Homo sapiens: one gene and its partners. The protein of the gene in region 1 purifies or fractionates together with the protein of each later gene. This does not show direct contact. Each region holds a gene or a part of one and is shown on either strand. Other genes may lie near its edges. The genes, in order: NFX1, LARP1, PABPC4 and HDLBP.

Region 1 (7,026 bases):
TGGCCTTTCTGAGCCTCATCTGTAAAGCAGAGATGGTAAATATCTATTACTGGGCTGTGGTAAGGATTCAACAAGTTAACTGATGTAGAGTGCCTGGCACAGGGTGATTTGAGACCATTTACTGAGGTCCCATATCACCCTTCATCCCAAACCATTACATGCTAACCAGGTATGTTTACTTAGAGCCACCAGCAAAGCATGTCCACCAGCAATCCCAACGGAATTAGCATTCCAACTTACAGGTTACAGGAATGTGGGCAGTCCTGGCCAGGCTGTTTCTTTCTACAAACCTCACCACAGCTATGTGGAATTTCATTTCTGCTCCACTCAGGATTCTTTACCTTGCCTAGAACATATCAGATCAGAGAGTCAATGGTACAAACTTCAACCACATTCTCAACTTTAATGAAACAGTAAAGTATAGCTAGGCAGCATGCAACTTTAGTGTGGTTTTTATTATTTCAACAAATGTATTATCCCATATCTTAAAATAAAAAGATAAATATAATGCTATTCATAAAAAGTTTCACTGAGTATGATAAATCTTAAATCTTGGATTACCTGGGAAAGATAAATAAAAAGTCACTTTTACTTACGAAAATACTATCTTGACTAATGGAAACGTTTAATTTAAGATAAATACCTATAAGACAAGTCGTCTATAACTGGACTTCTGAACTGATATGCGAATTGCTGCTGGAAGGATCAGAGAGAGGGAATAAGAGAAGAGCACCGTGGGGAAAGGGGGGAGGCAGTAAGAAATGGAAAGGACATAAATCCCGAGTAGCAGGAACTCACCTATTCCAGAACTATAAAGTCGGCATAAAAGACCTTATACTTTTATAATCAATGTCACTGCAAATCTTCATGGCACATCTTCCATGGACTCAGCAGAGACAGGGAAGAGTAAAACGAAGGCACAGGATTCCTCCTTGCCCTTGAGGAATTCATCCTCACTTGGGCAATTTGCACACTAAATTGCAGCCATCCCCAGTCCATGGCCTCTGCTTTTCTCTCTATACTATCTCTTTCAGAAATTTTATTCATGTTGAGAGGTGCAATCCACCTAAAGGCCATTGATCCCCAAATCCACATTTTCTCTCTTGCCCTGAATCTTCAGTTTCAGACCCATATGTCCAAATGTCTGCTGAACATTCTTGCTTGGGGTTTCACAGTCACCTCAAACTGGCTTTATCCACAGTCAAAGTTCACATCTTCCCTCTATAACTCCTCCCTTTTCAGGGTTTCCTATTTCTGTCAGTGACGTCAACTCTGTCAGAGTCACACACGCTCAAAAACTACAGTCATCTCTGACACCTCTTTCTACTTAATCACCAAGTTGTGTCAATTTTTCCTACAAAGTGGCTCTCACCTCATCGCTCTCCTGTTCCTGCCTCTCTAACTGGCCAAAACCTCATCTCCAGACTATCACAAAAGCCTCCCTGCCTCTGTGCTTTTTTGCTCCAATACAGTGCCCTGGTTTTCCTCTAACATCTCTCAAGAGCTCTACCTTTTGTCCCTGACTCCAAATGATGTTTTGGGGTTTTTTGCTTTTCTTTCCCCTGCAAGTGTTCTGCATTACACCCTTTTCTCACTCTGTACCCTTTCATCCGCTAGGGTCTTAACTACTCCTCTCAGCTGTGATTCTCATCCTTAAGTCCTGGTCTTTCCTCAAATATTGCTACCTGCCTGTTGGACATATTTCACTGTATGTTCTGCTCACTCCTCCAGCTCAACATTTCTAAACTGTAGTCACTGTCCCCACCAGACCTTCTTCTTTTGACCTGCCCTTTTCCTTGGTATCACCATTTCCAAAAGCATGAAACTTTGGGTGACTCCCATTCCTACTACTGTCAGGAATCAACCTAACACCATATTTTTCTATCACACTCCTTAGAGGCTTGTACTACTCTTCATCTGGATTATAAGTCCCAAATTATTTAGGCTCCAAAATACTCTACTCACTGCTACCAAACTAATCTCCATAAAGAATCATGTTGATGCCCTCAGTGGCTTCCCACAGCCTTCCAAATGAAGTCCCAACATCTGAGACTGGTATCAAAGGGTCAGCCCTTCCTTTCCAGTCATCTCCCACTCCCCTACCATCATAGATCCTGGGCTCTGTAAGTGGATGAATCACTCTTCTCCCAATATACCCTAAACCCTGTTGATTTTGAACTGCCTATGCTATTCCCTTCAACATATCTTTCTGCCTACAAAGATTTTACCTAGTTTACAATGCCAGTTCAATTCTACCTCCTCCAAGAAGGCTTCTCTTAATCATCCAGCTGTAAGTCGTAACTACCCCAAAGATCTCCCATAGTACTTTGTACTTCTAGCAGAGTATCAGGCTAATTGTGTTTTAACTCTTAGACTGTAAGCTCTGGTAAGTTAACCGTTTTATTCGCCTCTGTTTCTTCACAGTGCCTTGAACATTAATAAGTTCTCAATAAAAACATGTTAAATTAATGGTCCCCTGGAAGAACAGTGTGGGGCAAAGTCATCTGCAAATAAGGCCTTTATGTGCATTCTCACATCATTTTACCACTTTCAGATCATCTTGACCTTCACTCCACATTCTTATACTGCCTTAGAGTCTCTCATCTAATTTGCCAGTAGAGGCTTTAACAAGATTTTTAATTCCATTGTGGTACTTTATGTAATCCTTCAAAATAAGGTATTAAGTATTGGTATTGTCCTATTTGCCCAAATTTCCACTGATCTCTTACTTCCAGTTTCATGCTGCCTTTCTGGTAGTATATTCAAGAATATTTATTCCCTCATCTAATACCAATTTAGTATCTATTAAGGCTGAGATTCTGTCAATAAAACATGTAAGACCGGAAAATTCCAAATAAAACAGAGGCCAAAGTGAGACAGAGAATAACAAAGGAAAGCTTCCTTTGTAAGAGGGTGTTTGGGGTCAGATCTTAAATGATACTGTGGTTAAGAATTGAAAGAAAAGAAGGGGAAGTCAAAGAGTTCACCAAGGTATTGCATCTAGAAGATTCAGAGTTGATGGTAAATGACTTGACTCTTTGTGAAAGCTGCTAGCTAAGTAATGGGAAAGGAGAAATATGAGCAAATTGGTTAGAAAAATAAGGAGAGCATGCAGAAACAAACAGGAAGAGCTACTTATTTCAAGAAGGGAATGGTCAAAGGTGTCAAGGGCTATCACTCTACCAAAAAGATTATGAGCTTATAAAATCAGCCCTAGATATGGCTGGAAAGGAGTCATTGGTGATTTCTTTGTTTTTATTTTATTTATTTATTTTTTTGAGATGGAGTCTCACTCTGTCGCCCAGGCTGGAGTGCAATGGCATGATCTTGGATCATTGCAACCTCTGCCTCCCAGGTTCAAGCGATTCTCCTGCCTCAGCCTCCCAAGTAGCTGGGATTACAGACATGCAACACTATGCCCAGCTAACTTATTTTAGTAGAGACGGGGTTTCACCATGTTGGCCAGGCTGGTGTCGAACTCCTGATCTCAGGTGATCCACCTACCTTGGCCTCCCAAAGTGCTGGGATTACAGGCGTGAGCCACTAAGCCCGGCCCATTGGTAATTTCTGAATACGGTTTCAGTGAGGCAACAAGACAGAAGCAAAAATGCAATGCTTCAGGGAGGGAGACAGACAGTAAAGAAACAAAATCTGAAAAATCAACAACTAGAGGGAAGTTAGTCATTAAAAGGCAGGAAAGGAAAAAAAACATGCAGAAATGGGCTAGCAGCAAGAATGAGCATCTGGGTTACAAGAAGTTTTCCCCTAATACTTGGGGGAACTGAGATATTCAAAAACAGAAAGAAGTATTCCATAAAGAGGGAAGATGCCAGGATAGAGTTTATAATGCTGGTTTATAAAAAATCTGATTATAAATACCAATGACTTATTTCCAGGATTAAAATAAACACTATTATTTACTCATACTGCTCAAATCTGGACTATCAAAGCTGTAACTGCTGGGGGTGAGATGAAGCCCACGTCCACACCTATCTCTGCTACATGGTCAGGCCTGGTCTCAAGACCAAGGAGACAAGCACTACAGCCCAGAAGCAGCATGAGCCTGGTTGGCCATCTCCAGAACAGCTTGCCAGGAGCACAAAGGCTGTGGCTCTAGCTGTGTGATGGACCACATAATTACAGTCTTATAGACTCCTAGAGCTTTGAAGTCTCATTAGTAACTTCTAAAACATGCCCCGCAGACCACCTTTCCTGAACTGAGGTACAATGTATGTAGTAAAAGAGACTCCAGTGTATATAAACAAACTTACCACAGAAACAAGTGTAGGTATTAGGAACATGTGCAGAAACATTCTGACAGGCAGGGCACCTCCAACCACTCTGGCCATCTGTCAGGAAAAATGGGAGTAGGCCAAATAAATTTTCTTCCAAAAGCTACATGTAATTAAAAAAATTTAAATCTATAGGAAGACACAATATTGAAGTAGTGGTAATAATTTCAATGTTAAGCATATCAGACATTTAAGGAACAAATTCACAATACTGACTGCTTAGCTTGAATACAGCATTTTCCACTAAATATGGGGTTCATTAAAAAAAAAAAAAAAAAAAGGCCAGGTGTGGTGGCTCATGCCTATAATCCCAGCGCTTTGTGAAGCAGAGGTGGGTGGATCACAAGGTCAGGAGATTGAGACCACCCTGGCTAACATGATGAAACATCATCTCTACTAAAAATGCAAAAATTAGCTGGGCGTGGTGGTGCGCGCCTGTAATCCCAGCTACTCAGGAGGCTGAGGCAGAAGAATCACTTGAACCTGGGAGGTGGAGGCTGCAGTGAGCCGAGATCGTGCCACTGCACTCCAGCCTGGGCAACAGAGTGAGACTCCCTCTCAAAAAAAAAACAAAAACAAACAAAAAAAAACCACTAGCTAGGCATGGTGGCTCATGTGTCTAATCCCAGCATTTTAGGAGGCTGATGCAGAATTGCTTGAGCCTGGGAGTTCAAGACAAGACTGGGCAACACAGCAGACCGTCTCAAAAAAAAAAAAAATTAGCTGGATGTGGTGGCATGTGCCTGTAGTCTCAGCTGCTTGGGAGTCTGAGGCAGGAGGATCATTTGAGTCCAGGAATTCAAGGCTGCAGTGAGACATGATCACACCACTGGACTCCAGCCTGGGTAACAGAGTAAGACTCTGTCTCAAAAAAAAAAAAAAAAAAAAAATACAGTTAGATAGAAGGAATAAGATCTAGTGTTTAGTAGCACTATGGCTAACAACAATTTATTATATATTTCAAAATAACTAGAAGAGTAGAAATGGGATGCTCCTAACACAAAGAAATGATAAATATTTGAGGTGTTGGAATCCCCATATGCCAATTACCCTGATTTGATCATTACACATTGTACGCTTGTATCAAAATATCATGTGTACCCCATAAACATGTAAACTATTACGTATGCATAGTAAAAATTTAAAAATGAAAAAAAAATGTTTTTTTGTTTGTTTGAGACAGGGTCTTGCTCTGTCACCCAGGCTGGAGGGCAGTGGTGCAATCTCAGATCACTGCAATCTCCACCTCCTGGATTCAAGCAATTCTTGTGCCTCAGCCTCCCGAGTAGCTGGGATTACAGGTGCCCGCCACCACGCCTGGCTAATTTTTATATCTTTAGTAGAGATGGAGTTTTGCCATGTTGGCCAGGCTAATCTTGAACTTCTGACTTCAGATGATCCGCCTGCCTTGGCCTCCCAAAGCGCTGGGATTACAGGCGTGAGCCATCATGCCTGGCCAAAAATGAGAAGAAGATAAATTAAAAATAGAATTACCATATGATCCTGCAATCACACTTCTGTTTATGTATCCACAGGAAATAAAATCAGTAGGTCAAAGAAAAAATAATAAGTAAAAGCCATCATTTTCAATAAGAGTGACTGATTTTGTCGTATCTTAAAATATATTTTAATATTGTTGTTTAGCTGGTTTATTTAAGATCTATAACTTAATTCTGGTCATATGAAACACATGATCAAGGTAACATACTCTCCCTGCAGAAAAAGTAGTTAAGAGAAATTAAACTGTATTTTTAAAGCTGGGCTTAATAATACTTAAACGTATCAAATAGGGGAGAATAACTACTCAGAAGAGAGAATTAATTGACCTGCTTGAGATGCTGGAGACCTTGCCCATTTCTTTATGCAGTTCAAATGAAACACATGGTAACAGCTCTGACAACTCCACACTGGGGCCGTGACACGAACCAATTCACAGCACACCATGCACTCGTATTTTTCTGTTGTTAGTTGTTCAATTAGAGAACCTGTTTAAAAAACAAAATAACAAAAAAGATTAACTCAAACACAAAAAACCATTCCTCACTTTAATCAACCAAGGATCAGCAAGTCACTCAAGAGAAGAATCCAAACACAGAGATTTTAAGGGATATCTGATTCTGGGTAAGGCAGCTGGCTATTCAGACTGAGGCCAAAAAGGGGCAGGAATTTGCTGAGGAAGAGGATTTAGGAAGGAGACACTCAGGTGGGGATTCCCACAATTAAGGAAACATTCCCAGGAAAACAGCAGAGTAGCCAAATGCCCCTTGTAACATAGCCTGAGGATCCACTGGGCAATACAGGATCTTGCTTTGCATTTTCTATTTTCCAGGATCCTCTAAATCTATCAGATCCATGGATTTAGGTTAGAAAGAGGCTCGTGAAGCTGTAGTGTCAGCTATAAGAAGCCCAAGTCTGGGCAGGTTCCAACAACCCATGAGTGGTGAGATGGCTCTAGCCGTTGCCCTCAAAGTCTTTAGTCATTCACTTAACAAAGATATTCTTGGTGCCTACCATAAGCCCCATGGTGGTGTTACAGTCCCTGGCTCCAGGAGCTCAAAGTCCAGTGACACAGACCAGTGTGTAGTATCAGAATAATCCTCCCAGATCTATTCCTGAATACCTTCACCCACTTCCAGATTTTTTTCCTCAAACACAATTGCAGCAAAGTCTTTCTAGATTTCAATACAGCCAGATACTCTCAAAACTGAGTGTGAGTGTGTGTATATGCTTTTTT
Region 2 (7,026 bases), on another chromosome or scaffold:
CCATCTAAATTTCTGGGGCTGCGTTTTTGGTGTCTTTTCCCTGAGTATGTCCCCACTATCATGTATGTAAGCCCCTTAGGTCCTCAGAAGAAGGAAGGGAGAGGGAGCAGATGCATGGCCCAAATATGGAGTTAGTCTACACAAGTCTGCTGCACTAATGGCAAGGTGACCTTGGGAAGCCTGTTCATACCTCAAGGCTTCAGTTTCTCCATCTGCAGATGAAAGGAAGGAGACATTAGAATATTCTAGAAATAGTTTATATATATAAACAGATGAAGTTCACTGTTAAAGAAGTATTGCAATCTCTAACTAAAATTACTACTTCCTTTTTAAGTGCTGAATTTTTCTCCACATACCTGCTCACTGTCACCCACTTTGGAGACCTCTGGCCTGGGGCTTGTGAGGAGACTGCAGAATTGACCTTGAACTTTGGGTCTATGGAATTCTATACTCCCTTATCTATTTTCCCACAGTGATTACCTCTCATCTCCTTTCTCTTGCCTGCCTGTTCATACACAGAATTCCCCACAGTTGTGGCTTCAGCCCTCAAAAAGTGTTGGAGATCCAGCCAGAGACATGAGGAGAAAGGTAGTAAGTAGATGAGGGTTTTACAAAGTCCAGGCCTACAAAGTTTTGTTTGAAACAGGGGTCAGACTTAGCTCCCATTCCAGAATTAGAGCCCCTACTCTGACCTGGTCTATCTTAAACCTTAAAAAAAGATAGGTTTAGAGTTTATGTGCTCTTGGCACAGCAGGGAATCTACTTTTGAATAAATACTGTGGGTTTAGACAAATGCTTCTCTCTCAGCGTCTCATATTCAGTCTATCAAAACAAATAGTTTTTCTTTGCTGAAGGCACCGTGTTTTCTCTTGCCTTTGGAACAATGGTATTCTTTCTGCCTAGTCTGTCCCTATCTTCATCTGGCTTACTTATGTTCATCCTGTGGTAGTCACTTCTTGAAGGAGGCCTTCCGTAACCATTCTTAGTCACAGTTGACTAAGCTCCTTTAACTGTGTGCATCCACAAACCTGCTTATAGCCTTTACCATACCACAATGCAGTTGGCTGTTTGGTTGACTTTCTCCCATTGAGCTCCCTAAGTAACAGGGACCTTGTCTTATTCTGCTTTTAGGTTTTTCATACAGAGCTTAGGACTAATGGGTACTCCCTCATTTATTATATAATTGAACATCTGGTATTACCAGATCCCCGTCTAGGTACTGAGTATATAATGGAAAGCAAGGCAGCTGTGGATCATGGAGCTTCCAGTTTATTGGGAGATGTTGAATAGATGGATAAGTGGATGAATCAACCTGCTGAACTTCTGTGTGTCCACTCCTAAGCTAGGTGCTATGTAGGATATAAAGGTAAATGAGAGCACAGTTCCTGCCTATAGAGAAGTCATCATCAGTTGTTTGTGCATGACTGTGATATGAGCTGTGAGTGGAGGAACCTGGACTTCTATGAAACATCCTTTCTCATAGTCATAAAGCTGACTCCCAGGATGACGCTTGTGACCTGCTGGTGTTACCAGGGTCATAGTTGAACAGTCTTATGTTGAGAGGCTGGAGCTTCCCTCTCATGGTATAGCTACAGAATCTGGGCCAAGGATCTCTGGTGATTCCTTTTCCCCTTCGTCTGTCCTATTTTAGAAGTCAGAGGAGTCCAGATTTTCCCACCTGACCTCTCTGCCTCAGCAGCTGCCTTCCCAGCAGCTGATGTCCAAGGATCAGGATGAGCAAGAGGAACTGGATTTTCTGTTTGACGAGGAGATGGAGCAGATGGATGGGCGGAAGAACACCTTCACTGCCTGGTCTGATGAGGAATCTGACTATGAGATTGATGACAGGGATGTCAACAAGATCCTCATTGTCACCCAGACACCACATTACATGCGCCGGCACCCAGGGGGGGACCGCACAGGCAACCACACCTCGCGTGCCAAGATGAGCGCCGAACTGGCCAAGGTCATTAATGATGGCCTCTTCTACTATGAGCAGGACCTGTGGGCTGAAAAGTTTGAACCTGAGTATTCCCAGATCAAGGTGAGGCTTGGACATAGCAGTGAGTGTGGAGCCTGGTGTGCCTGTATTGTACGGAGAAGAGGAAGCCTGATTAGCTGTGCAATTTTAGGCAGGTCCTTATAATTCAGAGTCTCAGGATTTTTATATATGGGAAGGGGATGATGACTGACATCTAGCTTGGGCATTAGGAGTGAGGGGTGATGTGTAAACACTGCAAACTCTTCAGGTGAGGCGGTGGTGATTATTATCCTATCTGCGGATCCATAGTTAATATTCTGACAGTTGGCTAGACACTTTTGTGGGGAACAGAAAAAGGGTTAGATTGTTATTTCTAGTCTTAAATATTTAGGCATCTAAAAATTTAGAAGCCTTTTAAGAAGCTTGTGTTGAGTATGGAAAATGGAGAAAAGATAAGTCTTTTGAAAAATTGCTGCTGCCTGGAAATAGTCAAAACATCTCTGTTGTGGGATTTTAGAGTGGGTATGTTTGGTGGTAGGTTGTCCTAGGGTGAGCCTTTGTAATAAGTAGCAGTGTGTTTCCTGGAAGTAAGGAGGAAGGAGAGTTGCCCAGCCACTGTGTGATAAGGCAGTAGCAGAAAGAGAGATGGGGAAACACTGGAGCTTTCAGGGGGGAGTGTGTAGTGAGTTCCTGAGGAGCTACTGTCAGCCTGATCTCAGTCTTACTACAGGGAGGGCAGGGCAAGCACTGTCTTCTTCTGGGCTAGCACACTTGTGCCAAGGTAACTGGGGTGAGGAATGGTGACTGGGCAGCTGAGAGCCTGGGGACCAGAATTCCACGTATGTCGACGTGGGAGCTGCCCTCTCCAACTTCCTGCCAGTCTTGATTCCTTAAACAGGCTAGAGCAGCCTGCTTACTTACATCTTTCCCCACTCATCTCATGACCTCTGCAGCAAGAAGTCGAGAACTTCAAAAAGGTCAATATGATCAGCCGGGAGCAGTTTGACACACTGACCCCTGAGCCCCCTGTGGATCCCAACCAGGAAGTTCCTCCTGGGCCACCTCGGTTCCAGCAAGGTGAGAAGCAGACACCTGAGATCCTGACATGGGTGAGAGGATCTAGGGCCCTTGGACTGGGGGCTATCCTGGGGTGGATGCCACAGGCCTTTCCCTGCTTCCTGACTCCTCTCTCTGCCTCTGCAGTTCCTACGGATGCCCTGGCCAACAAGTTGTTTGGTGCTCCTGAGCCCTCCACCATCGCCCGCTCTCTACCAACCACTGTCCCAGAGTCACCAAACTACCGCAACACCAGGACCCCTCGCACTCCCCGGACACCACAGCTCAAAGACTCAAGCCAGACATCACGGTTTTACCCAGTGGTGAAAGAAGGACGGACACTGGATGCCAAGGTGAGGCATTCCTGTCGGGCTGCTCAGAGTCTTGGGTCTACTTCATTGCATTCCAGTGCTTTGCTTCTCTCCCTTGCCTTGTCTGAGCTAAGGAAGTGCTAAATCCTTCACCTGCTCTGTGTTCTGAGGCTGGTGGGCTTACCTAGGATTAGGTAGCCACATCTGCAAAATATACTGGGTGTGGGAGTGGTAACCCCATGTTGAAAGGCCTAAGGAGGATTGACCAGGTATGAGTCCTTGGGCAAATCACTGCATTCCCAAACCTTGATTTCTTCACCTGTTTGAAATAGGCATACCAGTTCCTAGCTCACCACTGTGAACTTTATACGAGAATGAATATGAAAATGCTGTTGTAAAATGTGAGAGATCATGCCCATCTTAGTCCTACAAGTGCTTGATGCTCCTCAGAGTTGTAGGAGTACAAACAGTAACAAACCCTGGGCTAACCTTTGCAGATGCCTCGAAAAAGAAAGACAAGACACAGTTCAAACCCACCCTTGGAGAGCCATGTGGGCTGGGTGATGGATTCCCGTGAGCACAGGCCCCGTACTGCTTCCATCAGGTACCTGGGGCAGTGGGGGAAGAGTGATCAGGCTGCCTATGGGATGGGTGGGCGAGCCATGAAATTGACTGGACCAAGAAGATTGGTCTGAAAATTAAAGGGACCCTCATCTAAGAGGTTTTCAAAAAACCAGTGGTGTGGAAAGCTCAGCCCAGGACCTGGGAATGACGGGTAGGCTTTTTTCCTAAAGAAGTGGTGTGGCAGTCACGTGAGACCAGATTTTCATACATGCAGAGAGAAAATCTCTGAATTGGTTTCCAAGCCTGGCTATCTACTTTCTGTCTGAGGAAGAATAGCCAGGTAGTTGAATAAACAGATTTCTGGCAGTCTCTCTGAGCCTACTATGTCTTGGGAGGCTACTTGAAAAGTTTTAAAAATTAAAAAAATACATATTTATTGGCCCCAACCTGTATCTGCTGACCCTGCTTCTTGGGGTAGGGCCCACACTCTTTTTTATTTATTTCAGTAAGATGGCCCCAGTGTGTGTTTCCTGTTTCCCAAAGCAAGCTTTGAGAGCCACCTACCTATGACCAATGCTCTCTACTCCCTGCAGAGATGGCACAGACTGCAAATAGGCATGCTTTTGAAGAAAATATACAATTGATCTTTGAACAACGAAGGGCGTGGGGTGCCCAGCTGCACACAGTTGAAAATCCGTGTATAACTTTTGACTCTCCAAAAGCCTACTGTTAACCAGAAGCCTTACCAATAACATATAGTCAATTAGCACATGTTTTGCATATTATATGTATTACATACTGTATTCTTACAATAAGCTAAATAAAAAATATTACTAAGAAAATCACAAAGAAGGGAACAACAAACACTGGGGCCTACTTGGTGGGGAGAGGGAGGAGAGTGAGGTACAGTTTACCTACTTAACAAACCTGTACACATACCTCTGAACCTAAAATAAAAGTTAAAATCATAAGAGAAAATATTTACTGTTCAGTAAGTGGAAGTAGAATCATCATAAAGGTCTTCATCGTCGTGGTCTTCATGTTTAGCAGGCTGAGAAGGAGGGGTTGGTCTTGCTCTCTCGAGTGGCAAAGGGGAATCATCATAAAGGTCCTCATCCTCATGGTCTTCACATTGAGCAGGCTGAGAAGGAGGGGTTGGTCTTGCTGTCTCAAGAGTGGCAAAGGTGGAAGAAATCTGCGTATAAGTGGACCCACGCGTGGATCCATGCATTTCAAACCCATGTTGTTCAAGGGTTCACTGTAGATGGATTGACCCATGATGGCTCATTAAAAGGTTAAATGCTTAAAGTTAATAAATGGTTAAAAGCTCAAGTTTTATCATTGGACACGTTTCTGCCATTAAATAGTCTTATGACCCTGGATGAGTCTCCTAATCTCTGTAAGCCTCAGTATCCTCTGTAAAACTCTCTGAGAGTTGATGCAGAGTTAATCAGACCCATGGATATAAGTTAAAGGTCCGTAACTGGGCCTCCTTGTTTGATACCCTGTGAGAGGATGGATCTTGGCTGACAGAACGGATCAGAGGGACCCCTCCTGACATGGTGGGGCTGCTGTGGGGAACCTGGTGACAGTATTTTTTGTGGTTTCTGTAGCTCCAGCCCCTCAGAAGGGACGCCTACAGTTGGCAGCTATGGCTGTACCCCTCAGTCATTGCCCAAGTTCCAGCATCCTTCCCATGAACTGCTCAAGGAAAATGGCTTCACACAACACGTCTACCATAAGTATCGTAGGCGCTGCCTTAATGGTAAGAAGTGTGGGGGGCAGGAGATGAGCCTCTGGGCCCGTTATTTAGACCCAGAGTATAAGAGTTGGGGGATACGGGGATAGGTGACTCTTTTCTCTGACTTCAGAGCAAAAAAAAGACATGACATTATAGCAAGAAAGACTGAAGTTAGACTCGGGCCAGGTAGTTTTAAACTGTAGGAAGCTAGGGGGATATGGCACTCACAACGTTCGTGTTCTTTGATCTTCCTCTATTGATTATTAAAGCTGTCAATTAAGTATTTCCATATCTCTGGCAAGATTACTGACTCAGCCATTGTCAGGTCTAGTCCACTGTCCATCACAAAAGGGTATGTAAGAGGTGACATATGCTCTCTAGAACAAAGGTTGCCAAACTGGCCTGTGAGTCAAATCCAGCCAGTATTCTGTTTTCGTATGGCTTTGGAGCTAAGGACAGTTTTTACATTTTTAAGGGGTTGTAAGAAAAAAAGATTTGTGACAGAGACTATATGTCTTCTGTAAAGCCTGAAATATTTGTTCTCTGTCCCTTTACAAAAGTAGTTTGCTGATCCCCTCTCTAGATGATAGTGTAAGGAACGAGCCTGTCTAGATGCTCTTGTCTGTCCCTGCTCTTTTAGTATTCTGATAGGTTGGCTGTAAAGACGCGCAAAACCAATCTAGTCACCTGTAGTTATTAACTCATTCATCCTCTTTCATTCAACAAAACGTGGTTGCTAAATTCTTGATTCATCCACTTCACTTCTCTCTTTCTTACTCTATGTGTAATAACAGCTTTATTGGGATATAATCTACATATGATGGAACATACCTAAAGAATACAATGTAATAGCTCTAAGTGTACTCATATAGTTGTGTGCCCATCACCAGAATCAATTTTAGAACATTTTCATTACCCCCAAAATGCTATGCCCCTTACCAGTCATACTCATTATACATGCAAACTACTCCCCACCCCCAGAATCCTCCCAGCCCTATGAAACTACTAACCTACTTTCTGCCTCTAAGGATTTTGCCTATTCTGGACATTTCACATAAATTATACTGTATGTGGTCCTTTGTTACTGGCCTCTTCCCCTTAGTATATTTGGTATACTAACAAATACACAGCAAGGTTCATGTCATAGCATGCATCAGTACTTTATTCTTTTTATTGCCAAATCATATTCCATCGTATGGATGTATCACATTTTGTGTATCCATTCATCAGTTGATTGGCATTTGGGTTGTTTCTACTTTTTGTCTATTGTGAATGATGCTACTGGGCATATTCACATACAGGTTTCCTGTAGACGTAGTTTCTCCTTTATTTTGGTTAGAAGAGTAGTATTGCTGGGTCATGGGGTAACCATG
Region 3 (6,501 bases), on another chromosome or scaffold:
GGAGTGATCTTCTATCCTTGCTTATCTGCCTAGTAGTCAAGTTGGCATTTGTTAAGAGAGCAGAAGAGCCATACCTTGAATTGTCCCCATTTTCATTATGATGGTGTGGCATTTTTATTCACATACCTTACTGGCCCATCTCATTGGTAGAGAGTTATGGAGTGATGCACTTCTTTACTTCCCTATCCTCCACTTCAGGAGGCTCTCTGGGCCATTAACTAAGACATAAAACAATGACAGTCACACCAGAGAAGACAGTGAATAACCTTGTCTATTAGGAAGAATGCCATTTGTGAATGATGAACTTAATGTGGGAAAAGACTGCCTGAACCAGTAGACCTGTGGTTTTGTAGCTGTTTGGAGTATTTCTTGGAAATTGAGCCTCAGGAAGGCAAGTGAGACTAGAATCTAGGCTGCCTATCTCTGAGCTGGTCATCTCATTGAATTAATGGTGGCAGTCATTGGTTACCTGAACATTTTAGGACTCCTGTCCACACGTGGTATTCCAAAAGTGTTATCCTGACGTTGGTAAGAGCTTGTTAGAGTTTGTCCACCGAGGTCTTGAAGCATATGAGATATGAAAATAAATTGCTCAGTACTACTCTCAAGATGTTTTGTGGTTACCCGGAGTAGCTATCCACCAGGTATCAGGAAACATCTTTGAGTTCCTGGTTTTATTATTAGCCATATCATAGTGTTTCAGAACTTTAGCATCACCTGGGGACTCAAAGAAAACACCTAGATACCTTAGAGGTTGTGACTTAGTTGGTCTGGGGTAAATCCTGTGCCAGAACCCTGACCTAGACTCAGTGACTGCAGCAGAACCCAGGCTTTCTGGTTCTTCTGAATAGTTCCCTCCCCACCCAGGGACATCCTTTTTTTTCCTATTTGTAGGTTTGTTTTGTTTTTTTTGTTGGTTTGGTTGGTTGGTGTTTTTGTTTTGTTTTGTTTTGTTTTGTTTTGTTTTGTTTTGGAGATGGAGTCTCGCTCTGTCGCCCAGGCTGGAGTGCAGTGGCGCGATCTCGGCTCACTGCAATCTCTGTCTCCCGGGTTGAAGCGGTTCTCCTGCCTCAGCCTCCTGAGTAGCTAGGATTACAGGTGTGTGCCACCACGCCCAGCTGATTTTTGTATTTTTAGTAGAGACGGGGTTGCACCATGTTGGTCAGGATGGTCTTGAATTCCTGACCTCGTGATCCACCCACCTCGGCCTCCCAAAGTGCTGGGATTACAGGCATGAGCCACTGCGCCTGGCCCTTTGTTTTTTTGAGATGAGGTCTCACTACATTGCTCAAGCTGGTCTCAACCTCCTGAGCTCAAGCAGCCCTCCCACCTCAGCCTTCCAAAGTGCTGGGATTACAGGCACAAGCCATCACACCCAGCCAGGGACACCTTATTTCTTAAGTAGCTGGTCTCATTTTGTAGGTAATGCTGGAGGATGGAAGAAGCAAAGGGTTTGGCTTCGTCTGCTTCTCATCTCCTGAAGAAGCAACCAAAGCAGTCACTGAGATGAATGGACGCATTGTGGGCTCCAAGCCACTATATGTTGCCCTGGCCCAGAGGAAGGAAGAGAGAAAGGCTCACCTGACCAACCAGTATATGCAACGAGTGGCTGGAATGAGAGCACTTCCTGCCAATGCCATCTTAAATCAGTTCCAGCCTGCAGCGGGTGGCTACTTTGTGCCAGCAGTCCCACAGGTGGGTGTGCTGTTTGGTCACAGCTCTTGGGAACCTGCCGGCTGGCAGTATTCTGCAGTGGTTGGGGAGAGGGATTTTTCGTTATTAGAGTTCTAGAATGTCACAATAAGGACCCTTCAAGTAAAAATGAAGGACTTACCCATGGTCACAAACACACACCCACAGTGGCAGTGGTAGCATAAAACAGTCCCCATTAGCTGACCCCTCAGCTCTTGAATAGAAAGAACATTTAAATAATTAGCTTAGGTCCTGGTTAGTGAGATGAGATGAGATACTTCTCTAGGATGGGTTCAGTCCTTAAGGGGGTGTTTGGGTATTCTTCTGTCTTACAGGCTCAGGGAAGGCCTCCATATTATACACCTAACCAGTTAGCACAGATGAGGCCTAATCCACGCTGGCAGCAAGGTGGGAGACCTCAAGGTAGGTGGTGGGGAACAGTAATTGACAGCCCAGGATATACCTGTCCTGGTCTCCCCTGCCTTTCCTTCTTCCCCACTCTGAGGCACAGCCTAGGTTCTGGTCCACATCACTTCTCAATGATGTGCAATTTTTCTCTTCACCAGGCTTCCAAGGAATGCCAAGTGCTATACGCCAGTCTGGGCCTCGTCCAACTCTTCGCCATCTGGCTCCAACTGGTAATGCTCCGGCCTCTCGTGGCCTCCCTACTACCACTCAGAGAGTCGGTGAGCAAACTGGCCTTTAGAAGTGTGGCCTGGGGAGGAGGGAGTCAGGATGACTAGGCTCTGTCCTGGGTTGGTCAGTTTGTTGGGCTCGAATTTATCGAGTCCTGGTTCTGTAATCTTAGCTGTGTGCTTAGGTGGCCACTTCAGGAGCAGAGAAACAGTATGAGTTCTAGGTGTGTCAGTTGCTTTTAACATTCTTTGCTCATCGGTGACCTATGTGAAAAAGGTTAGTTGTAGAAGTTTGCTAGCTGGATGACCACAGAGGCAGCTTGTTCTTTTGGGTGGGGTGAGGAATACAAGGAAACAGTGTATACAGAATATGTCTTGTATTCCAAGATGTGGAAAGAGTTGTATGTTATCCTTTGGCTCATCCTCGAAAGTAGTAGTGGCCCCCTGTGCAATGTGTTGCGTAAACGTGCTTTGAAATTTCTCCTTCCGTGGGACGTGGCCAGTTGGACATCTGCCGCCAACACTGATGTGCATTTGCTGGTCTGTTGTAGGGTCTGAGTGCCCGGACCGCTTGGCTATGGACTTTGGTGGGGCTGGTGCCGCCCAGCAAGGGCTGACTGACAGCTGCCAGTCTGGAGGTGGTATTGGATGCACACAGAAGGGGGAAAGATGGGATTTGACGGGTCTTTGCCCAGACTGATGGGCTTTAATTGTATTTGTTCTTTCCCTAAGGCGTTCCCACAGCTGTGCAGAACTTAGCGCCACGCGCTGCTGTTGCTGCTGCTGCTCCCCGGGCTGTTGCCCCCTACAAATACGCCTCCAGTGTCCGCAGCCCTCATCCTGCCATACAGCCTCTGCAGGTGAGGTTCACCAGACAGAATGCTTAAAAGGATTTCCCCCATTTCCACTTGATGTAAAAGAAGCTGTGCTTTTGATTCCTTCAACAGGTATTAAATGCCTGCTCTGTGTTATGACGCTATGTTCTGATTCACTGTCCCTGCCCTTCAGGGGCTCACTAGTGGGAAAGAAGGGGCTTAAAAGTGCTCTGCCTGATGCCAGTTCACTCAGAAATGCCTCAGAGCGGGCAGCCAGTGCTTCCTCTTCTGTTTGTACGAAATAATGTGCTCATTCAGCTGTTTGAGCCTCCAGGTCACTTCCGCATCCAATGACCTATTGGATCCTTGGCTGCTCTGCAAGATGATTGGTACATTAATGCAGGAAATAACTTCAACTTACAGATCGGATGTTCAGCTTCAAAGATGTAAAGTGTGTGTAGGAGGTGAAGGGGTTGAACCTAGAGCTTAGATTTTCTAAGCTGTAACTTGCTGTCTCTAGACCTGTGCTCTAGATGCAACTAGTTTGTTTCAGAGCCTAATAGCAATTTGCTGTGGAGGTGTCACCCTAAGCCTTCAGGCCCATAAGCTGCTTAGGAGATTACTCTTTAACTGTCCTGTCTCATACTCTCTAAGTTGGGGATTTCCTAGAACTTGATGCTATGTAAAATACCTTTTCTTTGCAAGGCTTTGACTAGCATTGACGTTGCATGTTGACCGTTTTTAAGCATTTGATACAAAAACATTTGGTAGAATTAAGGTGATGTGGAATGTAATTATAAATGTGTTGATATTTACTCCCTTTGATCCAATCTGCACTGAGATTTACCCTAAAGGAAAACTAATTTTCAGGAAAAGGTTATATACAAGTGTTTACCCTTATTTATATCAAGGCTTTTCATTCTTGAGTAACTTTGGGTGTATTAAGGAAATGTCAGAAAATGCTTGCCTAGCACTATAGGTTTGTTTTATTATTTACGTTTCACTTCGCTTTCTGATAGCATGCCATTTTCATTGTAATTGGTTGTGTTTATGTCCATACCACTCTGTTCCTCAACACACCCCTCAATCCTTCAAGGACTGAAATTAGTTCCTTTAGAGCAAGGACAGCCACCTCCTCTCCTCTTTCACATAGTCAGATGTTCAGATATTGAACAGGCACTCAACCACCATCAGGTGTTGTCCTTTCCTCAGTGCTAACCCACTGCCTTTCCTGGTTCCCAGGCACCCCAGCCTGCGGTCCATGTGCAGGGGCAGGAGCCACTGACTGCCTCCATGCTGGCTGCAGCACCCCCCCAGGAACAGAAGCAGATGCTGGGTGAGTGACCCACTTGCTTGCAGAAGAAGAGGGTCCCAGAGCCTGATGCCAGCTAGGACACCAGTGTCCATTGTTTACTGGGATTTGATTTGTTTTTTTATTAACTATCCTCCCCATAGGAGAACGCTTGTTCCCACTCATCCAAACAATGCATTCAAATCTGGCTGGGAAGATCACGGGAATGCTGCTGGAGATAGACAACTCTGAGCTGCTGCACATGTTAGAGTCCCCCGAGTCTCTCCGCTCCAAGGTGAGCTGGGGCTCAGACCCTGCAGCTTCAGTTCTCAGCTTGGGAAGACTGGGGGCAAACTTGGATGCCCAGGTGCAGCAGAAAGTGGGATCTGCTGCCCCCAGGACCCCTCTCGTCATGCCTTGACTGTGACTGGAGGCTGCAGTGGGTATTTGGGAAAGTAGTTAGCACCAGAAGCCTAGGGATCATCTGTACAGTTGGCTTTGGTCCACCACTAGGTCTGGGCACTGGGGAGGGGTGGAGTAGCTCTCCTAGATTCACTGACCACCTGAAGATTTCTCGCAGGTGGATGAAGCTGTAGCAGTTCTACAGGCTCATCATGCCAAGAAAGAAGCTGCCCAGAAGGTGGGCGCTGTTGCTGCTGCTACCTCTTAGACAAGGAAAAACCGTATGTGTGGCTATTTTCATTTTTGTTCCTATGAGCATTGTTCCTATGAGCATTGTCTTTGTGGTTTGACCTGAGGTTGTATATATGCTCACTGCTTAGCTCTGGGAATACAATAAGTACAGTTAGTTACACGGAGTGTGTTGCAGGTGACTTCTTATCATGAGGACTGTGGACTTTGTCTGCAGGAGCTTGAGTGAATAATAAAACTAGTACTGGTTGATGGTTGTAGGTGTCTCCAGATAGGGAAAGAAGAGACAGTAAAATAAGCTAAGGAAAAAGCACATGGTAAGGACCAGAGCTGGTGTGTTGGGAGGGTTGACTTGGCATAGTCATGACCCTCTTGTCAAGGGCCTCAGGAGCCTTGTCATCTAGTGGTAAAGACCAGAGATGCTGCTAAATGTTGTACAGTACACAGGAGGACAGACCCAACAGAATGTCCAAAGTGTCAATAGCACTGAGGTTGAGAAACTCTCTTCTAGAATACCTTCCTTTATCCACTATATGTTAATGAATCTAAATTATTTGATTATGCATTTATTTGTGTTGGTGCTTTTCTTTACAGGATTCAAAAGCCAAATAACCCCTTATGGAATTCAACTCAAGGTTTGAAGACTTCCTAGCTTGTCCTATGGACCTCAACACCAAGGATTACAAATTGCAAATTTAATAGGTCATTTTGTATCAAAAGGTCAATTATGAAGCACCTAGAATTTTTCAATTATACGAATATGTTCTTTGGGTTCTGCTGTGGCCCAGACAGTGTTAACTTTTTTTTTATTGTGGGTTTTGATTTTTTCCCCCAGAAATTGGTTTTATTTGATGTACCCAAGTCTTACGTTTCCCAATAAAGAAAAAAAATCTCCATAAAACTGCCTCTGTCTCTGACCACAGTTTTACTCTATGAATTCCGGTTTTCACTGGAAGTAACTTTAGGATGTGAATTGGTTCCAGTGATAGTTTATTCTTTCTTGACTTGAAGCTGACAAAGATTAGCAAGATACACAGAACTGTTAAATATGATCCTGTCCCACACTGTTCTGTTACAGTATGATTGTTACATTAGCCCCATTTAACTTAGAGGGAACAGAGATCTGATGTGGTCAGAGCAGACCATGGGTCTGGCCCAGGAAAATCTGGGGCAGAGTGGGGTTGGCGCACACCCCAAGGACATACGGTGAGATCTGCAGATCCCAGTTGGTTAGTTGAGCCCCGTCCTTCCCTTCCTGAACTCGGTTGGGGTGTGTCCTGTCCCCTCTTATTTCCTGCAGTCAGTTTATGCTGCATTCGAGTCAGCGGATCCAGTTCCCCAGATTCTGCAACCAAGTTTTCCCCTAGCAGGGAAAATGGGAGGTCTGTGACTATAGCAAATGGTGCTGAAGTCTTCA
Region 4 (7,026 bases), on another chromosome or scaffold:
AACATAGCCGAGGTAGAGGTCTCCATCCCTGCCAAGCTGCACAACTCCCTCATTGGCACCAAGGGCCGTCTGATCCGCTCCATCATGGAGGAGTGCGGCGGGGTCCACATTCACTTTCCCGTGGAAGGTTCAGGAAGCGACACCGTTGTTATCAGGGGCCCTTCCTCGGATGTGGAGAAGGCCAAGAAGCAGCTCCTGCATCTGGCGGAGGAGAAGGTGAGCATGGGGAGGGAGCGTGACTCTTGGCAGGAAGCCTGGTCCTCAGTACAGTGTTCTCGCTTCTCACTGTGGAAACCCCTGAATGCCCTTCCTTTGTGGCGGGTCAGAAAACAGCTCTATAATGTACTGTTTATGCGTCTTTGTTTTTGCTGTTACTGGAGGGCCTTTCCAGGTCCAAACGCTCACATATGCAATATATAAAAGTTGGTCTTTGGCTTATTAGTTTTGGGGTGCTTTTGTTTTTTAAATATGATTTACAGTAAAATTGGCCATTCTTCAGGTATAGTTGAGTTTTAAGTAACATGCAGTCATGTGACCACAATCATCAAAATTCATTTTCCATCACCCCTAAAGATTGCCCATGGAATTGCTGTTGTCCTTGTGTCAAAACCCATCTGTGGGTATGTTTCCGGGCTCTTCTGGTGACACCAGGTTTATGGGAAGTCTGGAAATCAGTAGTGTGAGCCCTCTTAACTTTGGCTGTTCTACACCCCTTGCTGATCAGCCTGTCAATTTGTAGGAAAAAAGCACTTTCACGTTTTGATTGGGATTGTGTGAAATTTGAAGATGAGACTGGCGAGGATTGACAGCTCAGCAGTTTTGACTTTTGCAGGCATTTCTCCATTTTTTTTAGGTCTGTGATTCTTTATTGGTGTTTTATAATTTTTAGCACATTTTTATGTTCGACTTAACAGATCTAACTACTGTTACTCTTTTAGTGCTATTGTAAATGGCACTTTTTTTCCATTTCCAGTTGTTAGCACATGGAAGTGCCTGTGGTTTTTGTATGTTGACCTTCACGAGGCTGCTAAATAAAGCTCATGTATATTAGCGCCAGTCACTGTTTTGTGGATTTTTTTTTTTTTTTTTTTTTTTTTTTTTTTTTTTTTGAGACGGAGTCTTGCTCTGTCGCCCAGGCTGGAGTGTAGTGGCGCAATCTCGCCTCACTGCAAGCTCCGCCTCCTGGGTTCACGCCATTCTCCTGCCTCAGCCTCCCGAGTAGCTGGGACCACAGGCGCCCGACACCTCACCCAGCTAATTTTTTGTATTTTTAGTAGAGATGGGGTTTCACAGTGTTAGCTAGGATGGTCTCGATCTCCTGACCTCGTGATCCGCCCGCCTCGGCCTCCCAAAGTGCTGGGATTACAGGCGTGAGCCACTGCGCCCGGCCCACTGTTTTGTGGATCCTTATTTTATATGTCACAATCACGTGGTCTGTGGACAGTTACATTTCTCTCTAATCTGGAGCCTTGTATTTCTTGTCTTTTTTGTTGTTGTTATTAGATTGATGTTTTTGTCTTTGTGTTTAACCAGCCTTGCGTTTCTGGGGTAATCCCTGCTTGGTTTGGTAGGTTGTCTTTGGCCATATTGCTAGATTGCATTTGCCTAATTGATTGCCTAATGTTTGACTAATGCTGCTATTTGTGGATGTCTTTGAAAAGTAGCAGAGTCTCTAGGTGGTATTTGGTGAAACCTGCACTTAAAAGGTAGCAAAGTTGTTATTTAATATTTTTGTGCTAGCATGTTTTTCTTTGGTATTTTTGCTTGCGGGCCAGATCTTGGGTCCGGAGAAAGGCAAGAGCTCCCCGTGTGGACCTGAGTCCCGTGGAGCAGCGCCCTTCTCGGGGCCCCTGCGTGGGTCTGCCAGAAGCACTGGTGTCCACAAGCAGTGTCCGGGGCCTTTCCAGGACCCTCGTTTTCTTACTGCCACACAAGGGCGTCGCACTACACGAGGCCTCTGAGGACCGGTCTCTAACTGTAGCCTTGGTTGGCTTGTGTCCCTCTGAGCTTGAGCTTGAGCCTGGGGAGTGGCTGGTTTTGTGGAGGCTGATCTGTAGCACTCGTGGGAAGAAAGGGAGCCTGGCCCAGATTTGTGTGTGCTTGGTCTGGAAGCAGGTAGAAGAGTGGGAGCATGGTGCACACCTCTTGGGCAGCTTGCTTCCTGCTCTGCTGGGCACACCCCACGCTCCCCAGGACGTGCACTCCGCCAACATATCGTCCGGCGCGTTGCTCCCACCTCCCCCTGTGCAGATCAAAAATGGCTTGGAGAAGTTTGGTCAGTGCTTGTAAGTGGCAGGACCAGGGTTCTAAGCCTGTGTGTTCATCCCACCAGCATCTGGTTGTTGTGGAAGAGAAGTAGGTGTGCAGTCTGGGTATTCATCTGTTTATTCAGTGAGGTGTGCTAGCCCCATTTTGGGGGTATTGGTGCAACATCAGGACACTGGTGACAATGTAAGGGGAGCCCGAGCTTGCTGTCCTACAGACCCTCTTGTCTTCCTCACTGTGGTCCAGGCACGTGGTGTCAGGCTAACACAGTGGGATTGGTTTCTGCAGCAAACCAAGAGTTTCACTGTTGACATCCGCGCCAAGCCAGAATACCACAAATTCCTCATCGGCAAGGGGGGCGGCAAAATTCGCAAGGTGCGCGACAGCACTGGAGCACGTGTCATCTTCCCTGCGGCTGAGGACAAGGACCAGGACCTGATCACCATCATTGGAAAGGAGGACGCCGTCCGAGAGGCACAGAAGGAGCTGGAGGCCTTGATCCAAAACCTGGTAGGGAGCGGGCCTCGGCGGCCGACTCTGCTGGGGCCGTGATGGGGTGGCTTATCTTCCATCTCTTCTTAACACTGCAGGATAATGTGGTGGAAGACTCCATGCTGGTGGACCCCAAGCACCACCGCCACTTCGTCATCCGCAGAGGCCAGGTCTTGCGGGAGATTGCTGAAGAGTATGGCGGGGTGATGGTCAGCTTCCCACGCTCTGGCACACAGAGCGACAAAGTCACCCTCAAGGGCGCCAAGGACTGTGTGGAGGCAGCCAAGAAACGCATTCAGGAGATCATTGAGGACCTGGTAGGCACTTGGGTGCTCGGGGAGGGGTTCTCACCCCCCAGTGGCCACTCACCGAAGCCGTGTATGAGTGTTCGCTCCACCCTGTAGGGAGGTGACTCCCTCATACAGCCCTGGAAGGCTTCAGAAGGGGCTTTCTGGTGCTCGCTCTTCTTTCCTCAGCCTGTCTGGCCTCCTTCCTGATAGTTGGTGAGAATTCTGCCTGCGAGAAGCACTTAAAAAAAAAAAGAGAGAGAGAAGGAGAAGAGGAGAGGGGAGAGAGAGAGAGGAAAGAAAGCAAGAGAAAGAAAGAAAATGCATTCTGTATAAGGGATCAGGAAAAATGAAAATGCAGTCTAAGGGGTCAGCTCTCTTCTCCCCTCTGTGAAGGAAAGAAAATCGATTTGAGGGCATCCACGTGAATCCATGGGAAGTCATGAGAAGACGTGGTCTTTAGAAGCAGTCTTTAGAGAGTGTCCCCTCCAGGCCACTCCCCTGCCAGGGCCTTGGATTCCCTTTCCCTAATAATCAAGTCTGATGCCTCCTCATGGAGTCAGAGGCTACCCCAGGAGGTCCCACTCCTTTGGCTGAATTGGCCACCCTCCAGGGATGGCACCTGGCCTTCTGGGACACATTTCAGAGGAGGCCCACCCCCTTAGACCTGTCCTGCTACCTCCCTCCTCCCTGCGCCTGGAGCCCTGGACTCGGGAGAAGGGGAGCATCTGTGCCAAGTGGCTGTAGAGGACAGGGAGGAAGGTGGTGTGAAGAGTGCTGTAAAACTTGCCCTAAGGAATTTAATCTTTGCTCTTTTCTTTTTTCTTTGTGTACCTCCCTCCAGGAAGCTCAGGTGACATTAGAATGTGCTATACCCCAGAAATTCCATCGATCTGTCATGGGCCCCAAAGGTTCCAGAATCCAGCAGATTACTCGGGATTTCAGTGTTCAAATTAAATTCCCAGACAGAGAGGAGAACGCAGGTGGGTCCCCCATTAGCCCTGCTCTGCTTGTTAATAGTGGCGCCTCCCATGTGAGAGGCGGGGCTGTCGCACATACTGGTGAGGCTCTTTCCTGTCTCTGCTGGAAAACCATCTATGTATTCTGGGGGCTTCCAGAGGTTCAGGGTCACTCCCTGGCCTTTAAAAGATGGACCACGTCAGTTACTGACAGAGTGACCAGGTGACCTTCATAGGTCCTAGAGACACACAAGGTAGCCAGTCCCAAGGCGATGAGGAGCGTGCAGCCTCATCCTCGGGTGTCCCGAGTTCAGTCCCAGTGATTCTCATGACATCGTTTGGATCGCATGAGCCCCGTCGTAGAGCTTCCTCCTCCACATCTCCCATCACTGTGGGGTGTCCCCTGTGAGGCAGGCAGCTGCAGCCTCTGGCTGGCCAGAGGGCACCATCCAAGTGGCCGGCAGTTCTAGGAGAGCATTCAGTTCCCCGTACCATGCTTGCCCCCAGCTCTGCTCATGCACCTGGTGGTGGGGAGGCGACCTGTGGGATGCGGGTCGGTTGCCTCTCTCTCACTTGCTCTGCATTTGTGAAACAAAAGGTATGCCCTCCACTCTGTGTTATCAGATGCCCGCCCTCCACTCTGTGTTATCAGTCTTGGTTGAGCTGTTTGGGCGGCAGGTGGCCCTGCAGCCTGCTGAGTGCACATAGTGTCATCTCTCTGGGCATCCAGGAAGCATGTCACACACAGCCATTCAAGCCCCTTTGTTTTCCTGAGAATACAGGGTGTTTTGAGTAGGAAACTAATAAACTCATACTGCACTCTGTCTATGTTTTACACTTCAGTGGTTATTTAAAACTTTGATTTTGATAGAATTTCACAGAATAGTATAAAGACACATCCTGTGGCACCAGTTTCTTTTCTCAACTTCTCCCCTTTTACACACGTTTTTTTTCTGAATGTCATTTTTAGACATGTCCCTTTATTCATGGTGGGTATTTTCTTAGAACAAGGACATTCTCTTACATAATTCTAGCACATTTATCGGAATCGGATTTAACATTATATAACAGTAGTATCTAATATGTTGTCGGTATTCAAATTTGCCAGTTTTTCTCCTTCAGAAACACCTACTTCCCCATCCTAGGATCACCCTTGATTTCAGGCAGGCGTCTGTCTGGTCTCCTGCTCATTTATTTACATCACACACCTCCTGGGTTCTGTCTTAGTGATAATTATTGTTGTGTCTGTTTTGTGACACTTATTGTTGTGGTGTCTATTTTGGTACACACGCGGTGTCCCAGTGTGGCCTGTAGGAGCCCCTCCAGCTGTCTTCTGTGTCCTGTTCACACGCCTCTTCACTTCTGGGGCTCTCGCTTTCTGGCATAAGGAGCTGGCACAGGTTTACCTTGGCCTTGCCCTTTCTGTCTCCCCTAGACCTCTCACCCCCCTTCCCACTGCCTCTCCTGGGTGGGGCTGCGTGCTGGCCGCCTTCCCTGATGAGCCCTGCCTCACAGTCAAGCCTCACTTGTGCAGTGGGTCTGCCCTGTGTTCCTCCCATGAACTAACTCATCTGATCTCACTGAAGCCTCTGCTGTAGTTAGTTGCTGTTAGCTTCATCTTCAAGGTGAAGAAGGGAGACACAGAGCTCACGGCCTCCCGGCAAAGCCTTCATTGCCGCCCCCCCCCCCCCCCCCAAGGTCTGGGAGCCCTCTTTGAGGCTGCTGTGGGGACGTCCTATCTGCTCTCCCTGACCAGACCAAGACCTCCTGAAGGACAGGAGTGGTTTTCCCTCCCTTTTACCACCCAGCACCCAGCAGGTGCCTCACAGACATATGCATTCTGAACAAGGTGTGGGGTCTCTTCCAGCAGCTGTCAGCTGTCCCTTTTCCCCTTTCTCTCTAGTTCACAGTACAGAGCCAGTTGTCCAGGAGAATGGGGACGAAGCTGGGGAGGGGAGAGAGGCTAAAGATTGTGACCCCGGCTCTCCAAGGAGGTGTGACATCATCATCATCTCTGGCCGGAAAGAAAAGTGTGAGGCTGCCAAGGAAGCTCTGGAGGTATGTGTCCATGTGCCCCCCTCCACCCCCCGCCAAGGCCCAGTCAGCAGGCACCTGGGGAGACGCGTGGCCTGGATGGGATGGACGGTTGCCCAAGCGGCAGTGGCAGTGGAGGTAGCCCTCTTGCTCCTACCGTGTGCGCACGGGCTGTGCTTCTCGGCTGGACACAGAGTTTGGGGAGGCCACTTCCCTTCACCAAGGCTCGGGGTTCTATAGCCCCTTTCTGGGACAGCTGCATGGGATCCGGCCTCTCAGGCCCACGGTGGGTGCGGGGGCTGTGGAAGGGTCTCAGCTGCAGGGGGATGAATGTGACCTCCAGTTGCAACGTCTCCCCCCGCGTGAGTGGGGTTATCAGGCCTAGCTCACCTTGTGTGCAGTCAGTGTCGAGTGCCACCTGCGTACTGGATGCTGCTCTCAGTGCTGCGGTGCCACAGCACACAAAAATAGTTCTCACGTTGCCGTGGAGAGACAAGCAGTCAACGCAGATATATCCTGTGGCAAGTGATGGTAAATGCTGTGGCAAGAAAGCAGGTTCTGGAGGTGAAGGGCGGTGGGGGAGACAGGGCAGGGAAGGTGAGCAGCGGTCTGAGAGTCCCTTGTGGCACCTCGTGGGCATTAGCCAAAGCCGTCCTGATCCCAAGGGACAGGGCAGGGAAGGTGAGTAGTGGTCCGAGAGTCCCTTGTGGCACCTCATGGGCATCGGTCAAAGCCGTCATGACCCCGAGGATGTGCCAGGAGTCAGGGCCTCTCCTCCTACGTGGGCCTGAAGGGGCTGCTGTAATTCAGGAGGGTAGGCTTGGGATGAAGGGTCTGGAATTTCTGTCTGCCAGCATTAGCCTAATGCAAATCTTTTCCTATTCTTTTCTATTGAGTTAAAGGTCCTGGTGGCATTGTCGGGTGGGGCACATTGCTGTTGTCATAGGGCTGTTTGCCTTGTGTTTCGTGGAGCCCCATTGCTGAGCTTA

What was found.
Region 2: the proteins of NFX1 (region 1) and LARP1 purify together in Homo sapiens (affinity purification with mass spectrometry, with the first as the bait; 3 studies listed by BioGRID). This does not show direct contact.
Region 3: the proteins of NFX1 (region 1) and PABPC4 purify together in Homo sapiens (affinity purification with mass spectrometry, with the first as the bait; 2 studies listed by BioGRID). This does not show direct contact.
Region 4: the proteins of NFX1 (region 1) and HDLBP purify together in Homo sapiens (affinity purification with mass spectrometry; 2 studies listed by BioGRID). This does not show direct contact.

What each region holds. Positions count from the first base shown.
Region 1 is NC_000009.12:33,300,514-33,307,539, reverse strand, and holds part of NFX1 (transcriptional repressor NF-X1), read right to left. Parts: intron 6,278-7,026; coding exon 6,119-6,277; intron 4,350-6,118; coding exon 4,272-4,349; intron 347-4,271; coding exon 241-346; intron 1-240. UniProt on the Homo sapiens protein: Binds to the X-box motif of MHC class II genes and represses their expression. May play an important role in regulating the duration of an inflammatory response by limiting the period in which MHC class II molecules are induced by interferon-gamma.
Region 2 is NC_000005.10:154,800,356-154,807,381, forward strand, and holds part of LARP1 (la-related protein 1), read left to right. Parts: intron 1-1,651; coding exon 1,652-2,044; intron 2,045-2,934; coding exon 2,935-3,058; intron 3,059-3,184; coding exon 3,185-3,390; intron 3,391-3,845; coding exon 3,846-3,952; intron 3,953-5,525; coding exon 5,526-5,677; intron 5,678-7,026. UniProt on the Homo sapiens protein: RNA-binding protein that regulates the translation of specific target mRNA species downstream of the mTORC1 complex, in function of growth signals and nutrient availability.
Region 3 is NC_000001.11:39,560,300-39,566,800, reverse strand, and holds the end of PABPC4 (polyadenylate-binding protein 4), read left to right. Parts: intron 1-1,422; coding exon 1,423-1,695; exon of another isoform or gene 1,696-1,731; intron 1,732-2,027; coding exon 2,028-2,115; intron 2,116-2,258; coding exon 2,259-2,378; intron 2,379-2,878; coding exon 2,879-2,965; intron 2,966-3,059; coding exon 3,060-3,187; intron 3,188-4,384; coding exon 4,385-4,478; intron 4,479-4,597; coding exon 4,598-4,728; intron 4,729-5,013; coding exon 5,014-5,103; 3' UTR 5,104-5,116; intron 5,117-5,678; 3' UTR 5,679-5,985; downstream 5,986-6,501.
Region 4 is NC_000002.12:241,235,650-241,242,675, reverse strand, and holds part of HDLBP (vigilin), read left to right. Parts: coding exon 1-216; intron 217-2,367; exon of another isoform or gene 2,368-2,553; coding exon 2,554-2,775; exon of another isoform or gene 2,776-2,855; coding exon 2,856-3,074; exon of another isoform or gene 3,075-3,174; coding exon of another isoform or gene 3,175-3,285; intron 3,286-3,888; coding exon 3,889-4,027; intron 4,028-5,906; coding exon 5,907-6,061; intron 6,062-7,026. UniProt on the Homo sapiens protein: Appears to play a role in cell sterol metabolism. It may function to protect cells from over-accumulation of cholesterol.